Homo sapiens: one gene and its partner. The protein of the gene in region 2 interacts with the protein of the main gene of each other region in a pairwise test. Each region holds a gene or a part of one and is shown on either strand. Other genes may lie near its edges.

Region 1 (4,755 bases), 2.0 Mb from region 2:
GCAAACCTCCCTGGGGCTCCTGCCCACACAGACACGGGCTGGCAGTGCCAGCTCCGGGACCTCCCTCTCTGCACCACCTCTATCCCCCCCACTCCACTGCACCTTCTCCACTCCTTTCTCTCCATGACTCACCTCACCTCTGCTTGGGCTGTGGTGCTCCATTACATGCCACACCTGTGGTCTGTCTCCCTTCAGCTCCTGAGCAGCCACTGCTCCTCCTCACCCTCCTCTAGGGCCTGCCATCCACCCTCTCCCTTTGCAGCCAGGGGGCCTAGACCCTAAGTCTGCCCTCTCCCCATCCTTCTGCCCCTGCCTCCTCCCCCTTCTCACTTCACCAGACTTCAGTCCACGTCCTGTCCCCACCAGTGACACCAGTGGCCTAGTTAGTGGCTCAGCTCACTTTCCCTGCCCCAGCTCCCTGCACTGATGGCAGTCACTGAGGCGCTGCCTTCCCTCTGGACCCCATGGCCGCCTTCCCAGTTCTTCTTCCACCCTTGCCCAGGCCTCTCCCCGACCTCTGTAGCGCTCTCCCTCGGGGACCCCACCGACCCCCAGCTTCAGGGTCAGGCTAGCCACACTCTCCCAAGCCCGCGCCTCTGAACAGCACCCTCCAGAGAACCACCTGCCCCGCTGCTCCCACATCACACATCGGCTTTTCCCAAGGGACCACCAGCCTCCTTCCAGCAGCAGCTCCTCCTGGGACCCTCTGTGGACAGTAGTGTGGTCCCTGGCCACCCAGGCCCCTCCCTGGCACCTCACACCTGGTCAGCTGCACTGCAGTCCTCCTCCCTCGCCACTTTCCCATCGCCCTTTCCTGTCCCCGTATCACAGGCCCCCGATCTCCCACCCAGGCTGCAGCACAAGGCTCTCTTTCCTCTCTGCCACCCATCCTCTTCATTTCTGGAGTATTCTTTTTTCCAGAGCTGCTCTTATACCTCTTCCTGCTGAAGTATCTTCCCTATTGCCTCCCAAATTAACGACACATTTCTTACCCCACACTCAGGGCCCATCCCCACTACTACCTGCCACCCAGCCCCATCCCTAGCTCTTTCCTGTGCCCGGCCCATCCAGCTGCCTAGTTGAGCAGCCCATTGTTGCCCTGCCTGGCCTTCCCATGTGAGCTCCCCCTCCAGCTCAAGTGCTCTGCCCTCACCTTAAATTCTTCCCATCCTTCAAGGCCCACGTCAAACACAGCCTCCTCCATGACACCCTCTTGCCCTAACCAGTGTGACTTCTACCTGGACCCCCCGCTGTCCTGAGGCTGCGATCATCCTCCGGGCGCTCATCCTCTGTTGCCTCTGCTTGCGCCCTCTCAGTCCCTGCTTTTCTCACTTAATGGCCATAAGCTCCCTCAAGGCAACTCCCTCCCACATCGGGGCCAGCATGTGACTTATGCCAGTGGGGCTCCAGATTTGTTGCACCGGTGATGTCCTCTGTGTTCATGGCACAGATCACTCACCTGCTCAGTGGAGCCGCAATGGTCTTTGTAAAGCACCCCCCACCCCACCCTGCCCCACCGTGGCCTTCAGACCAGAGCTCCCACATTCTTCTCCAGCCTCCACATGAATGCCAGGCCCCAACCTCCCTGCTGCATCTCCAGCTGTGCCAGGCCAGCCTGTGGCCTCCACCCCACAGGGGGCCTGTGCTCTGAGCCAGCTGCATCTCCACCTTCCTCCCCGCCGGCCCCCTGCATCTCCACCTTCCTTCCCGCCGGGCCCCCCCATGCAGCCTGCCCTCCTGCCTGGGCCTCCCACCAGCTTCCTGGCTGCTATAGTTGCAGCTCTTTATGTGTTTTTTTATTCAGGTTTCCCCCATTTTGTTATATACTCCTAAAAGGTATGTTTAAAACAGCTTTTGCTAATTTAGTGTTATTTTAATGGTACTTTAAAAGCTTGCTGTTGAAAAATCAATGATTGATCATTTCATAACGCATATGATCTCTTAATTGGCCAAAGATGTCAATCCGGTTTTTCTGCCTGAGTTTTGCTTCCCATCAGCATCTGCATATGTTGCTGTGCATCGTCCGTGCGTTCAGTCCTTCCCACATTTGTCAATTACTTTGTGCCAGGCTCTGTGCTAGGCTTAACTGAGCCTGGACTTTGGTATCTGATGTTTAAATGTTGACCCTGCCATTTAGCAGCTCTGAGTGGATCACACTCCAGTCCTTTCTAAGCCTCAGTGTTTCTCATCAGTAAAATGGGGAGCTACATTATCAGGTAATTATGCAGTTTAAATAATATAATTTACATAAGTCTAGCACATGCCTAACACAAAGTAAGTATCCAGTAAATGTTAGCTGCTATTAAGTGCTGCACAAATACCATGTATTATTTTATTAATATTACTATTTGCTAGGCAATTGAGGGGTTAATATAAGGATGATCGAAACAGTCCATGCTCTACCCTGGCTCCTGTCTGGCAGAGGAGACAGACATTACACACGATTTCAGACCCAGCAGGCTGTGGGCTGCTCATAAGCGAGGGATACTGGATGCAGAGGAGGGAAGGGATCTGGGAGGTAGATGTGGGATCAGACCTGCATCTTGAAGGATGAGTAGGATGCTGACGGGCAGAGAAAGCAGGCAGGGCAGAAAGAGCAAGCAGGGGCTTCCTAGCAGGCAACACAGCCTGGGGAAAGGCACAGGGCAGCCAGATGCTGGGCTGTTGGGCCCAGGGCAGTGGCAGATGGGGACAGGGAGCCGGTAGTGTTATGGTTGGTTTGAAAGACAGGGTCTGCATCCTTGGAGAAGAGATTAATGAGACTTGTCTTCCTCTTTTGTAGCCCGCTCCCAAAAGACTTCAGGCATTGGGCGCCTGATGGTGCATGTCATTGAAGCTACAGAATTAAAAGCCTGCAAACCAAATGGTAAATACTGCCTTGATTCATTCAGCAGACATAACTGCCCTGCCCCAGTTTTTGCTGATGACTTTTTGAGACAGAGTCTCAGTGTATAACCTAGGCTGGAGTGCAGTGGCACGATCTTGGCTCACTGCAACCTCTGCCTCTGGGGTACAAGTGATTCTCAAGGCTTAGCCTCCTGAGTAGCTGGGATTACAGGTGTGCACCACCACGCCTGGCAAATTCTTGTATTTTTAGTAGACACAGGGTTTCACCATGTTGGCCAGGCTGGTCTCGAACTCCTGACCTCAAGTGATCTGCCCGCCTCGGCCTCCCAAAGTGCTGGGATTACAGCACTTTGTCACTGACAAAGTGCCACTGCGCCCAGCCACTGATGACTCTTCTGAACACTGAATAAAGGAATGCTTTCTAACAGTGTGTCCAGTGCCACTAAAATGCGCATATTGGACCAATATTCTTATCACTGTTTTCCCAGTAAGTGCCAGTGCCCGCCTTCCCGAGTGTGTCTGCGCCGAGGAAGCATGCAGCAGGTTGCAGTGACACTCACCCAGGATTGTTCCGTGCGGAGTGGTCCTGGCGGTGGAGCTCTCGGCCACTCCCCAGTTAATGCTGCTGTCAGCACTGGGAACTTGGAGACCCTGTTACTAGACCACAGGGATATGGTGCCCCAGGCAGCGGCTCCTGCTGCCATGGTCTCGAGTGACCCATTATTGGAATCCTGCTTCTGCTCAGGGAGGGCACTGTCAGTCGCTTCGTTTTACCTGCATGCACCACATGTGTCTGTGGTTTGTTTTTGTTCAGGAAAGAGCAACCCATACTGTGAAATCAGCATGGGCTCCCAGAGCTACACCACCAGGACCATCCAGGACACACTCAATCCCAAGTGGAATTTTAACTGCCAGTTCTTTATTAAGGATCTCTACCAAGACGTGCTGTGTCTCACCCTGTTTGACAGAGACCAGTTTTCACCAGATGGTAAGTGTCGCTCAGCCAGGGGATCTAAAGGCTTTCCCAGTTTCCTAGATCCTGGAGTCCAGATCTAGGGGCTTCAGCTGTGTGCAGACCCCATGCCACTTCAGGGAAGTGACACAGGCCTGTGTCATCTCGCTTTGGCAGCAGGTGGGTGGCCTTCCTCAGGGGAGGAGGTGGCCTGAGATGTGTTTCAGGTCTTTGACCCATCACTCCCTACACACACGACGTGAACACCACTCCTGGAGCATTCTCAGAATGGAGATTTGAATTCCATGTGGCAGCTTCTCACACACAAACCTGCCATCATTCCCCACACACCCACTCACGACATTCAACAGCCATGAGCCAAAAGAAGTTCCTTGTTTCAGATTTGAAGGTTTTATGAATCCACTTCTTCCGGATGTAGCTCTTTAATGATTTTATAAAGAAGAAAGACTTCTGACTCTCCTGTGTTTATTCACCAGATTTCCTGGGTCGTACTGAAATTCCAGTGGCAAAAATTCGAACAGAACAGGAAAGCAAAGGCCCTATGACCCGCCGACTGCTGCTGCATGAGGTCCCCACCGGGGAGGTCTGGGTCCGTTTTGACCTGCAGCTTTTTGAGCAAAAAACTCTCCTGTAGGGGTTCTAAAGGACAGCACCAGCGGGACAGCCCACAAGGCTGGGGCTGGAGAATGAGAGACTGCGCTCTCTTGGGGCTGAGGGAGCACCATGCAGCTTCACCCCTCACAAAGCCATGCACGCTGGGGGCTCTGTTTTCCTGCACACTAAATAGCTAGCAATCTATGCAAACACCTTTCCCATAAAGAAACCAAACCCCATAGTACAGTGCCTTGTCCTAGTGTTCACATGTTCAGCTCTGTTTGTTTAGATGCCAAGGTTTCCATTTTCAGGGCTATAAAAAGTATTACTTGGAAATGAGG
Region 2 (5,371 bases):
TGGGTTTGCTCCCTGATTAAAGTGCCTTCAGCCAAGACCATCTCTCCCTCCTGGTGAAGTGTGACTTCGAATTAGTTTGCACTTCCTGTTGGAAGGTAGAGCCCACTGCTCATTGTATAAGCCCCGAGGCCTAGAGTGGCAGCCAAGAGCCATCTGAAGCCACCTCTCTGCCTGTTCCTCCCAAGAGGCCAGGGTGGCCAGGGGTGGTGAGGGCAGTTCTGCACCCAGCCAAACACATAACAATAAAAACCAAACTCTGTGTCAGCATCTTTGCCCTTCTGGTTTAAACGCCTCCTTCAAAAAGCAATCTGGAAGAAAGCCCTGTGCTTTGGGGGAGTAAGAATGTGTGTGCAGAATTCTAGGCAGCACCTTAGGGAGGGACTGGGATGAGAGAAAGTGGGACCTGGTGGGCTCAACCACACACACCTGTCTGTGCAGATGCTTTGCCCAGGCTTCTCACCACGGTGTACCGGGATATTAAACCTCTTTCCCCAGCCTGGATTTCCTCATTGTGTGATCTTACCCATTTCTTTTCTGGGTGTGCCTCATTCATAGGTGCTTCTTGGGATGGTTGTGGGAACGTTGGTGCTAAGCAGAGGCGCTGACATCTCCCTTGATGTTCGGAGATCCTGCATAGCAGGGCTGCCCCAGAAATGCCTGTGCGGTAATCAGGCAGCACGGGAGCAGCATGAGGAGTGCTGACCCCCACAGCACCTGCACTCCCCCAAAGCTTCAGCCCCTCCCCACCCCACCCCCTGGGATGGAAAGTTCCTACAGAAGCAGTGCCCAGTCTGGGTAAACAGCACTGGGGCTAACTGGGTCTGGCAGAAGGATCCACGCTGAGTGTGTGCGGAATCGTAATTCCAGTCCCATCACATTCTGCATTCTAAATTGTCAGATATTACCAGTTACTCCTGCCTCTGCTCCAGTTGTACTTCAAATATGTCCCTGGTCCCAGCTCTGTAGCTGGGACTGGCAGGCAAGGAGATCAGGTCTGGCTCTGCTTGGTCACTAGGAAGCCAGACTCTAAAACCAAGTCACCTCTGAGTTGAGGTTTTCAGATGACCAGAGTAGGGAGCTGATCCCTTGCACCAAAGCCATTAACCGGTTTCCAAATTTGGTCTGAGAGAGCCTGAAGCCGGCATTCTGCCAATGCAGGAAGCTAAGCTTGGGCCCTGGCTGGTGGCATTCAGCTTTGAGCCTGGGTCTTTCCCTTCAGTAACACCAGGTAGGTGTGAATTATGTTGAAACTAGTGGAAGCTGGGGTGGGGGTTCTTGAAGGGTAGGGAGGGGCTGGCGAGGGCCCTGCAGAAGGGAATGAAGGCTGCCACCAGCCGCCTCCACAGACATGGGAATGGCCACACACCCACATCATTCCTCCATCAGTCCTCTCCTGCCAGAAGGCATATACACTGTGCCCATGGGTCCCCATGGCCTTGTTTTCAAAAGAAGAAAGCAGCTGGCACCCAGAATGCCACTTGTACTCATCTTCAGCAGTCTAGCATTTATTTCATTAGTCCTTGAGGATTCATTAAATGATCTGCAAGAAAACCAAATGTCCCCACATCACAGGTTCTGTGCTCTACTCTCTGACCACTTCTCTGAGCTGAGGCAGCCTGCTTGGAGTATGGGCACCAGCATGGCTTAGCTACTTTTAAGATAAAAAGTGGAGGAAATAAATAGGTAGACTAGGTAAGGCAGAAGAGAAGGCTGGCACTTTGGGCCCTGACACTAGTGGGCACCCTGTGGTTCTGGGTGAGATGGAGGACACGGATGGGGTGGGGTGTGTGGTTGGACACAATGACCAGAGCTCTGGGTACCAAGCAGATCCCCATGTTTGAGATTCAAGGGCACAAAGGCCTGCTGTGAGGCACGTGAACAAATGCAGGACTGAGCTCCAGGAACGCACTCTCCCAACTGTACCCTCCTGTGCCAGTGACAGAAAACCAGGGAAAAACACCAAGTATTGTCAGAGACAAATGATGGGGGCAAGAGATTGGCGGAATTGGAGGTGGTTGACTACCGCTTGCTTCTAGAATCAAGGAGAAGCTGACCTAAATCAACCTGCTCTTCCACGGAATCAGTATTCTGAGACTGAACGCCACCTGACGGATGGATGACTAGCTGCAGTAAAGTCAGAGCAGAAGCCAGGGTGCTAGAGTCATCTGGGCAGTGTCTGGCTTCCTAACTAGATAAGTGGGTCGGGTCAATTGCAGAGCTGTGCTCTTCCAAAGTTGTCACCCATGAACCAGGACCCACAGGTGGAGCCTCTGAGGTGCCATGGGTTAGGCTTGTACACGACTCACCTGTGTGCGGGGCCAGGCCCCACCCCCCTCAACCACGGTGGAGCAGAGGGGGAAGGGAAAGGCATCTCACAGACACAGACATCTACACCCTCACTCTGGGGCAGCTTTAGGCCAAAAGCCAACAGAGCACAAAGGAGAGTGGGCACTTGGGAAATCGGTGCTTAAATTACCAGCCATCTTCTTGTCTCTAAACAGAGCCTACAGGCTTCAGCAGTGGAAGTCGTTTGTGAAGGTCTATAGCAGGGCATGAGGTGGTGTTAGGTCACCCTGAAGGCCAGCTTTTGACCCCGTTGTGGGAATCACGGCAAATGCCTTACTGGGCCCAGGTACACAGTGGTGCCCCCAGCCCCTTCCCCATGTACTCTGCACACTCAAAGGCAAGATGTCCCGTGCAGGGGTCTGACCCCAGAGGACCACATTTCCACATGCATCTCCCCTGGATCCACCCAGTGGCTGCTGAGCAGCCTCAGTCTCGACATAGATCCTTCTTGCAGGCAGCACCTGCTCCTCCGGAGTGCTGTACCTGGGGCCCCCATACCAGCATTCCAGCTGTGCAGCTCCAGCTGGGCAGTTCAGATCTTGGGCCTCCAGCCTTTGATGAACTGCATGATCTTCTTGACCTGCAGCTTGGTGAGGTGGAAGTCATCTGCCAGGATGTCCTCACTGAGCTGCACAAAGATGCTACCATCGATGCGTTCTCGGGCAAAGAAGCTCACCACATCCTCTGAGAGCCCGATGAAACGCAGACTGCGAGAGACCTCCTCCAGGGAGAGTGCAGACAGGTCAGCAGGGGGCTGCCAGGAGGAGGCATCTCGGACTCCAAAGCCTGTGGCTCCATCCCGGGGACTGGCAGGAGGCCCTTCCAGGCGCCCTTGGGTTAGAAAAAGTGCTCCTCCCGCCTCGGGTCCCTGCAGAGCAGCTGGTGACAGTGGGGTGGGGACCTGGTGCAGCACCAAACCTTCAGGCTCAAAGGCCTTGGAGGGGCCAAGTGGTGAAAGGCGGGGTCCAGGCCCAGGTGTCCCCACTGCTCTGGGCTCCTGAGAACGCAGCAGCTCAGGCTCTGGAGAACTGCCCTGCCCCAGCTCAAAGGGATCGAAGGGCTCCAGGACTGGTTCCTGCCATTCAGAAGAAGAGGAGGAGGAGGGGGCGCAGGAGGAGGGGGGAGCAGCTGAATAGGCCTGGCCTGGCGAGGCTGGGCCTGGGGAATACGCAGGGCCAGAGGTAGCCACAGGACCCGAGGTGGTTCTGGGCCCAGAAGACAAGGCCGCTGAAGGGCCTGAGGGGTAGGCAGGCCCGGAAAAAGGGTTGAGAGCTCCAAACGGAGCAAAGCGCTTCTGGGGATGTGAGGGCTTGAATAGAGGAGGGCAGCTGTGGTAGGTCTTAACAGGGGTGTCAGCCCCCAGAAGGGAGGCGGCTCGACCGCTCAGAGGCTCTGTGAGGGCCCGGGAGGCCTGGCTGGGCTGTGTGGTTGAGGGTAGGGGACCGGGGGCTGGGCGGCTAGAGGACTCGCCCACCTTGCAGTCTCCCCAGGTGCATGGGTAGCAATAGAGGGAGTAGGTGTCCGGCGATGGGGAGCCACTGCCACTGCGGGAACCCGCCCTGTGGACAGAGACAGACACACACACATAGGACAGGTGAGGCTGAGAGGGAATCCGATAGGGTCACACATGCATTGCAACCAAGCACCACTATGACCTCAGCAACACGGGCCTGCACCCCAGCCCCAGCCCAAGACCCTCCGGAATGGCCGTGTTCTTCCTTCCAGCATCCCCCAGCCCAGGTCAGAAAACACAGGGGAAAAATGAAACGAAACTGAAATTAATAAAAATATTTTCTTTCAATTTTTTTTCTTTTGAGATGGTGTTCTCGCTCTGTTGCCCAGGCTGGAGTGCAGTGGTGCAATCTTGGCTCACTGCAACCTCCACCTCCCGGGTTCAAGCGATTCTCCTGCCTCAGCTTCCCGAGTAGCTGGGATTACAGGCATGTGCCGTAATGCCCGGCTAATTTTTGTATTTTAGAAGACATGGAGTTTCGCCATGTTAGCCAGGCTGGTCTTGAACTCCTGACCTCAAGTGATTCACCCAACTCGGCCTCCCAAAGTGCTGGGATTACCGGCATCAGCCACCGCACCTGGCCTGAACTTAATCAAAATTTCAAAACAGCAAGGAGCTCTCTTCTCTCTATCCTGCAGCAAAGTCCCCACCTTGAGGGGACCAGGGCAATGCTCCCATCCGTTCCTCAACATTTAAGAGAGAAAGAAGCTGAAGTGGGCAGAACAGGCCACTGGGCCCCAGGCCCCAAGACACCCAGACAGCAGTGCCAATCCCTGAGCCACTGCACAGGGAGCTGCACCCTCGGGAATCTCCCAGGCCTCAAGACTTCCTCTTCCTCAGCACTGTAGTTCCCCCTCCTCACCCTTCCCTGCCTTGATCTACCTTAGAACTCAGGACCAAGGGAAGGCAGGGACTCACCCATCCTGGAGGCCAGAGGAGTAGTAGGAGAGGCTGGAGCTGGGGGAATGTACCGGCTGCAGCTTGGGGAAGCGAGGGGGAACCGGGGGGCTGCTGGAGAGCCGGCCGCTGCCATTGCCACCCCGGGGAGGCACTGGAGGGGCATTGAGCAGGCGGCACTCCTCCTTCACCTACAAGCAGAGGGCGGTGACTCCACCTCGACTCCAAACAGCTGGCACTCCTTATCTTCCCCTTCCCAAGCAGCTGGGCGAGGGGGCTGTCTGGGCCTGACATTTGCCCCACTTTGCCAATAGGCTGCCTTGCACCCCAACTGCTCATCCAGTCAGCCAGCCACCCCACCCTTCCTAGCCTTCCCAGCCTATCTCACGCACCCACACCCTGTCCCACAGCCTCCTTCCTGTTCCTTGGAAATCCATCATGGATGTTAAGAAAAAGAACACAAAGGTAGATCAAAACAGGTTAAGCAGACGTGCTCCCTCCTCAAGGAAAAGGAGAGAAAGCAGAGGACAAAGGAAAGCCGAAGGGACAGAGGGAAGGAAGCGTCTGCCACCTGCATCCCTCCCTACAAGTCGTGTACCCCAAAGAGGACTCCAT

The links. Proteins that work in one complex are often made in the same cells at the same time.
Region 1: the proteins of GAREM2 (region 2) and ITSN2 interact in a two-hybrid assay, tested with the Homo sapiens proteins (one large-scale study listed by BioGRID).

The regions. Positions count from the first base shown.
Region 1 is NC_000002.12:24,203,325-24,208,079, reverse strand, and holds part of ITSN2 (intersectin-2), read left to right. Parts: intron 1-1,804; coding exon of another isoform or gene 1,805-1,833; exon of another isoform or gene 1,834-1,836; intron 1,837-2,782; coding exon 2,783-2,866; intron 2,867-3,661; coding exon 3,662-3,835; intron 3,836-4,296; coding exon 4,297-4,454; 3' UTR 4,455-4,755.
Region 2 is NC_000002.12:26,185,765-26,191,135, reverse strand, and holds the end of GAREM2 (GRB2-associated and regulator of MAPK protein 2), read right to left. Parts: intron 4,948-5,371; coding exon 4,778-4,947; intron 3,906-4,777; coding exon 2,879-3,905; 3' UTR 1,473-2,878; downstream 1-1,472. UniProt on the Homo sapiens protein: Probable adapter protein that may provide a link between cell surface epidermal growth factor receptor and the MAPK/ERK signaling pathway.